2 linked regions of the Homo sapiens genome follow. The protein of the gene in region 1 purifies or fractionates together with the protein of each later gene. This does not show direct contact. Each region holds a gene or a part of one and is shown on either strand. Other genes may lie near its edges. The genes, in order: NOPCHAP1 and SMARCAD1.

Evidence for each region.
Region 2: the proteins of NOPCHAP1 (region 1) and SMARCAD1 fractionate together in Homo sapiens (co-fractionation; one large-scale study listed by BioGRID). This does not show direct contact.

The regions. Positions count from the first base shown.
Region 1 is NC_000012.12:104,989,316-104,992,815, reverse strand, and holds part of NOPCHAP1 (NOP protein chaperone 1), read right to left. Parts: intron 1,105-3,500; coding exon 968-1,104; intron 1-967. UniProt on the Homo sapiens protein: Client-loading PAQosome/R2TP complex cofactor that selects NOP58 to promote box C/D small nucleolar ribonucleoprotein (snoRNP) assembly. Acts as a bridge between NOP58 and the R2TP complex via RUVBL1:RUVBL2.
Region 2 is NC_000004.12:94,210,553-94,214,584, reverse strand, and holds part of SMARCAD1 (SWI/SNF-related matrix-associated actin-dependent regulator of chromatin subfamily A containing DEAD/H box 1), read right to left. Parts: intron 1,551-4,032; exon of another isoform or gene 1,433-1,550; intron 848-1,432; exon of another isoform or gene 815-847; intron 1-814. UniProt on the Homo sapiens protein: DNA helicase that possesses intrinsic ATP-dependent nucleosome-remodeling activity and is both required for DNA repair and heterochromatin organization.

The sequences.
Region 1 (3,500 bases):
GGCATTAGAATCTCATAAAGAGCGCACAACAACCTGGATCCCTTACATGCACAGTTCATAATAGGGTTCACGCTCCTTTTGGAATCTAATGCCACTGCTGATCTGACAGGAGGCAGAACTCAGGTGGTAATGCGCTCTCACCCACCGCTCACCTCCTGCTGTGCGACCTGCTTCCTAACAGGCCACAGACCAGTACCAGTCCACAGCCTGGGGGTTGGGAACCTCTGAGATAGAGAACTGCAGGCAGGATCATATGGACCCTTTGAAGGACTTAGTTTATTTGAAACGTGATGGGAAGCCCCCAGGTCCCAAACTGTGTGAACAACGGACCCCAGGGAAGGCACAGTGAACGCAGGAAAACCTGCTAAGAAATTGCTGCAATACTCCAAAGGAGAGGCCATAATTACCTGGGCCAACAAAGGTCCAAAGGAACTGCAGAGGTTGTACAAAGTGGTTGGATTTGGGATCTATTCTGGAGGGAGAGCTGAATAGAATGGCTAATGAATTAGATATTATTAACAATTGTCTCAGCTTGGTCCAGACACAGATATTATAAACGGAATTCCACTGCAGAAACAAGATATGAGTATAAACTGAGAGAACATTTTTGCACATAGCTTATGTAATCAATTGCTCTCTTCCACACATCATTTATTTTTGCATACTCAATAAATCAGGCTATGATTACCTCTTTTGGGGCTTGGACAGAAAAAAACCCAGTTAGGACATCGAGTAAATTAATGCTTCAGAATAACAAATGTAGCATTTGACTTAGGAAAAAAAACCTTCCTGTGACATCATATGACTAAAATGACTAAATCATAAAATGACTATGTACCTATACAACATTGGAAACATGAGCTAACACCAGGAAAATGAAAACTTGAAAATAAAATGGAAAAGTTCTCTTCTTCTTAGGTGACAGGCAGACCAGTAATTTCACCATATGAAAACAAAGCATAGTTACCATTTGTATAACTTTACTATGAGGCCCATCAATGTTTTCAATATTGAAACGACCAGGTGGTGCAGCTGCCATTTCTTTTCTTAGCTTTTCATTTGCCCGTGCCATCTGTGGGAGAAATGTCTGTACCTGGTCCAATACTGTGGAAAGTAAATACAGCATATCAACATTTATGCTAGTAAATTCTGAAACCCAGGATTTCCTATAAACACTTCTGAATTGAGTATTAATAATAACAACCATAATTACATATCTTTTAGTTCCCTTCATTTAAAAACCCTCCATCCTCTTCTGAATAAAACAGTAGGACTACACAATCCAGCAATTGTTTCACAAATGTTTTATGTTTCTCATATATCCCCAGGACTGTAAACTCCTAGAAGGCTGGCATTCAACAAATAGTAACTAAATAGGGAGGCAGTGTGACTTAACAGTTAAGAGCACCAGGTTCTGAGGCTTTAGGGTACGAATAACTAGGTATGTACAGAATCCTAGTTCTACCTCTATCTGAATTACCTTGGGCCAGTTAATTAAGTAGTGGTTATTTCTGCCTACCCAACATACGTTCCCTTTCTTCTGATAATATAACCCTGGCTTTCCTTTTAAGCTTGTGTCACTCTTAGTCACTCTTGCCCCTCACCCCATACATGCCTACATCCTCCATATCCTTGGCCACTGTACCATGCTTTAGTGGCATCACAGTGACACGCTGCTCTAGTCGGGCCAATAATAGATCACTCAGGACCTTTTGTTGGAACTGTTGAGAGAGAAATCTTTCTGAGTGAATGACTGAGTTGGCTGAATATAAGGCTGAAGCTGCTGATAAACTGGCAACTCTCCACACCTGGGGGAAGAGTACGCTCTAGATTAGGCCAATACCCAGGAAAGCAGAACTAAGAGACAGAGTGGCTGACCTCTGAGGACACTGAGCACCTGGATCCAGATGCACCTGAAATCTACTGTGCCTGGAGTATTTTTCCCCCAATAAAAAGAGCCAACATAATTTCTTTTTTTGCTTAAGGCAATCTGAGCTGGATTTTAGTCATTTGCAACCAAGAATCCTAATTAATACATTTAATTCTACCTCTTGAAACCTCAGCGTACTAATCCATAAAAGAGGAGTGATAACTGTCAGTCACTGTGCCAAATACAGAGCAGTCAACAAACAAGGATATTTATTTTCTCTCTCAAAAGAGGCCCAGCACATAACCACGCATATAACAGACTCTCAAAACTTATGTAACTGCTATGGCTACATAACAGATGACTAAAATGTCCAGCGTATGGAAGAAGAAAAGAAAATAGTGGCCAAGGTCAAGTAGACGACCTCTATTTGTAAAATAAGGTGCTGGAAGGACTCCCTAAGAGCATGCACACAAATAAAGCCCGACGTAATAGTGAATGTTAGCTCTCATTCCCCTTCAGATTACAGAAAGAGAAATTACTAATACAAATAAAGGTATTTCTCTGTCCTCAGATTTAAATATATTGCTACAGATAGAAAATCTGGTACTGCTTTTGTTTCCAACTAATGAATCAAGTAGAGCAAAACAAGTACCAAAATGTGCGGCCTGAACTGTGATCCTCAGAAGCCAAATAATTCCGTGGTACTCTAGGAGAGTATATGCTGAACCCTGAGGCTAGTCCAGTCGTGGTTCTTCTAAATTAAATAATACTCAACACACAACACCATAATATTCAAAATGTCCAACATCTAATAAAAAATTAGCAAACATGCAAATAAACAGGAAAACATAATCCATAAAGAGTAGGGAAAAAAGATTCAGAAATGATGCAGACGACAGAATCAGCAATAAGAATGTTAAAACAGCTCTTAGAAATATACTTTGTATGTTCAAGGAAGAAAAGAAAAGCACAAACACAAGGAAAGAAAAAAAGATGTAAACAGTCTCAAACTTCTAGAGATGGAAACTGTATCTACCTTGAAAAAATACATTTGATAGAATTAACAGATTAGACAATATAGAAGAATAGTGAACTCAACGAAATCAGCGATAGAAGCTATCCAAATTGAAACACACAAAACATAAGACCCAAACAAACAATCAATGAGCTGTGAGACAACCTCAACTGGCAAAATTAGGTGTCATTGGAGTCCCTTCAGGAGAGGCGAGACAGGAGCAAGCAACAACAACATCCCTAAAAATTTCCCAAATTTGATAAAAATTATAAACCCATAGATCCAGTAAGTTCAACAAACCCAAGCTCAAGACTCACAAAGAAAACTACAAAGGGCACATCACCATAAAATCGGTAAAAACCAGTAATGAAGGGAATCTTAAAGGCAGCCAGAGAAGAAAAGAAACACCATATTCATGACACAAAATGACAGTAGACACTGGCGTCAGAAACAATGCCACTGAAAAGAAAGTGTAGTGATGTCTTTAAAGTACTGGAGAAAACAGAAAAAGCAAAAAACCACACTGTCAACCTAGAATTCTAAATCCATTAAAGCATCTTCCAAAAACTGAAAGCAAAATACTTTCTCAGACACACAAAGGCTGGTAAGTCTATC
Region 2 (4,032 bases), on another chromosome or scaffold:
CCTTGGTTAACAAACGCTTGGCCAGGTGCGGTGGCTCATGCCTGTAATCCCAGCACTTTAGGAGGCCGAGGCGGGCAGATCTCAAGTCAGGAGATTGAGACCATCCTGGCTAATACGGTGAAACCGGGTCTCTACTAAAAATACAAAAAAAAAAAATTAGCCCGGCGTGGTGGCGGGCACCTGTAGTCCCAGCTACTCAGGAGGCTGAAGCAGAAGAATGGCATGAACCCGAGAGCAGAGATTGCAGTGAGTTGAGATTGCGCCACTGCACTCCAGCCTGGGTGACAGAGTGAAACTGTCTCAAAAAAAAAAAAAAAAACAAAAGAACGCTCAATTTTCAATAATCCTGAAACATATTTTCTTGACATTACTTCCCAATCAGGTTACCTATTTCTCTCTTTCCTTTCCTGAATGAATAATCTCTATCTCATCACCATTCTACTGAAACTGTTAAAGGTTAGTAGTTACTTTTAATTCCAAGGAAACTGGTCACTGATCAGTCCCCACTCAACTTGACTTCTCTACAGGATTTGTTACTAGACAACTAAATACCAAACTAGGTATTTAGGTATCCAGGACACTATCATTTTCTATGACTATTCTAGTCATCCTTCAAATTTTTCATTGGTTTTCCTGCCCATTGTCAAATGATGTTTTTTATTGTACACCCTGCTTAGGACATTGATGAGTCCCAAGTTCTAGGGTTTAGACCACTCTCTGAGCTCTAATATTCAACCATCTACTACCTTGGTACTAAAATAGGATGGGTAATGCAAACACAACATAATTTTTAGTATCTTTCTCCTAAACTCACCTCTTAATTCAGTCCATGGTGTCAATCCTCCAGCTGTCCAAGCAAGGAACATTTGAGTTATCTGTAAATCCTCCACATTCAACTGATCACCTAATATCATCAAATGCGTATCATTTACAACTCCCCTCAGTTGCCTCCTCTGTCATCTCTACAGTCATTTCCCTACATTGAGGCTTCAATGAATACAACAGCTTCACTAATAGCATTTCCATAATGAAATGCTCTATGATGTGTACCAAATAAGATCTACCGTCCCTGACACAGGATATAAAGGCCCCTCACAACCCAATGGTTTACACTTCTATCTTTTCAGTTTCATCTATATTGTCTAAAACCTCCTGTTCTATAATCTGCCCCCAACCCTCCACACACATATTAGACTCTTGGAGGCAACATATATTTTCAACTCTCTCATCATTTGTTCACCCAGTAAACAATGATTTCATTGTTTAGAGTCCACTCCAAAGGTCATATCTCTGTGACTTTTTGTGATCCTCCCCTGAAGAATGGATAATTCAATCATTTGTGAATTACAGATAGTGATTCTACTTTGCTTAGTATTTTGCCCTATTATATGGTTTTATCACACCATACTATTTTAACTATATATTTACATACCATTTTCTCCTGGTGCTCTTGGAGGATCAGGCTTCACTCATTTTTATTCTTTATTCATAAAATATAGTAGGATCTCTCTTCCCTTTCACCTGCCATTATTTCAATCCCTCCAAACTCACTGTACTCCCAAAAGTCAAAGAAAAAAAGGAGAAATAATGTGTAAATAACAATCATTGACAACTTTGGGCACCGAGAAGAGTAAAATAAATCAGGGGGCAGAGGTTAAGTGTATGCCCTCAAATCCAAAGGCTGGCTGGGATTTAGAGGGGCATTAGGGAGGATGTCCTGTACCAAAAGAAGCTTCAAGCAACCATGGCCAAAGAACACCTGATGGCTAAAGGGACTATTTTAAGGTCCTATTTTAAAATAAAGGTGTGGTGGCTCATGTCTGTAATCCCAGCACTTTGGGAGGCCAAGGCAGGCAGATAGCCTGAAGTCAGGAGTTTGAGACTAGCCTGGCTAACATGGTGAAACCCTGTCTCTACTAAAAATACAAAAATTAGCCGGCTGTGGTGGTGTGCACCTGTAGTCTCAGCTACTTGGGAGGCTGAGGCAGGAGAATTGCTTGAACCCAGGAGGCAGAGGTTGCAGTGAGCCGAGATTGTGCCACTGCACTCCAGCCTAGGTAACAGAGCAAGACTCCATCTCAAAAAAATAATAATAAATAAATATGTATAGGGCTGGGCGTGGTGGCTCATGCCTATAATCCTAGCACTTTCAGAGGCCAAGGCACGTGGATCACTTGACGTCAGGAGTTTGACACTAGCCTGGTCAACATAGCGAAATGCCGTCTCTACAGAAAATACAAAAATTAGCCGGGCATGGTGGCATGAGCCTGTAGTCGCAGCTCCTCGGGAGGCTGAGGTATGAGAATCACTTGAACCCAGGAGGTAGAGGTTGCAGTGAGCCAAGATTCTGCCACTGCACTCTAGCCTGGGCCACACAGTGAGATTGTCTAAAAACAAATAAATAATAAATAAATTTTAAAAAATGTATAAAGTACTAATAATGCCCACTCATCATGCAATAATATTTACTTCAATGCACTTATTGAGGGCCTACGACAAGCCAGTCGTTGCCCTGAACAATGGAGATAAATAGGTGAACACAACAGATAAGGTCCTGCTCTCATGAATCATATGTTCTAACAAGGGAGTCACAACTATATAATGTAATGTTAGCTAGTGATACACAACTACATAATGAAAGGTTAGCTAGTGATAAATACTATGAAGAAAAATAACAGTAAAGCTGGGGTAGGGTGGGCTGGGGTGGGTGGCTATTTCACAGGGTGATCAAGGAAGGTCTTCTTAAAAAGGTGACATTTTACTGAGATTTAATGAAACAAAGCATCTGAGTCATATGCAAATATCAGCAGGAAGAGTCTTCCAGGCAAAAAAGCAAATTGGAAGAAGCAAAGATGGGACCTTGCTTGAAAGATTCAAGAAACAATGTGGTGGTGGCACAGTAACTGAAGGAGGGTCATAGGAAATGAAGTCAACTCACTAGATAAAATAACAGGATTAGTCAAAAAGAGTGATTACAGGTAATTTTGACTACATACAATTTCTGTCCTGTAAGCTGACTTAGTTTGACCTGACACTTTACTGTAAATAAACTAACGCAGCATTATCCCACAATGGGAGTATGAAAAGTTACCACATGATAAAGAAGTAAGGTCAATAGTCACATCCTATTTATAATTCACCAATTTTCATCTCCAGTCCTGACCTTAAAATCTAACTTCAGTATCTTGTCCTCTCCAGAGATCCAACACTCAATTCTGAATCCCCACTTCCTCAGCAATCCCTAGACCCCAGGCTAAATTAGCACTTGGGGGCAGGACCTTTGATTTTTATTCTTATTTATTTATTTATTTTGACATGGAGTTTTGCTCTTGTTGCCCAGGCTGGAGTGCAATGGCACAATCTCGGCTCACTGCAACCTCCACCTCCAGGGTTCAAGTGATTCTCCTGCTTCAGCCTCCCGAGTAGCTGGGATTACAGGCATGTACCACCATGCCCAGCTAATTTTATATTTTTAGTAGAAACGGGGTTTCTCCATGTTGGTCAGGCTGGTCTTGAACTTCCAACCTCAGCTGATCAGCCCGCCTCAGCCTCCCAAAGTGCTGGGATTACAGGGGTGATCCACTGTGCCCAGCCAGACCTTCGATTCTTATTTGAATTCTTAAAGACATTTACCTTTTTTTTTTTTTTTTTTTTTGAGATACAGTCTCTGTCCCCCAGGCTGGAGTGCAGTGGTGTGATCTAGGCTCACTGCAACCTCTGCCTCCCAGGTTCAAGCAATTCTTGTGCCTCAGCCTCCTGAGCAGCAGGGATTACAGGCACGCTCCACCATGCCTGGCTAATTTTTGTATTTTTAGTAGAGACGGGGTTTCACTATGTTGGCCAGGCTGGTCTTGTGATCTCAGGTGATTTGCCCACCTTTGCATCCCAAAGTGCTGGGATTACAGGCTTCAGCCACCGCGCATAAAAATCTTACCATTCATCTTATCTCATTCCCATCAGGGATCTAAACCCTGCCCTTCATTACTTTGAAACCTCTCATATCTCTTTCTTCTCCATTTCTACCGCTATCAT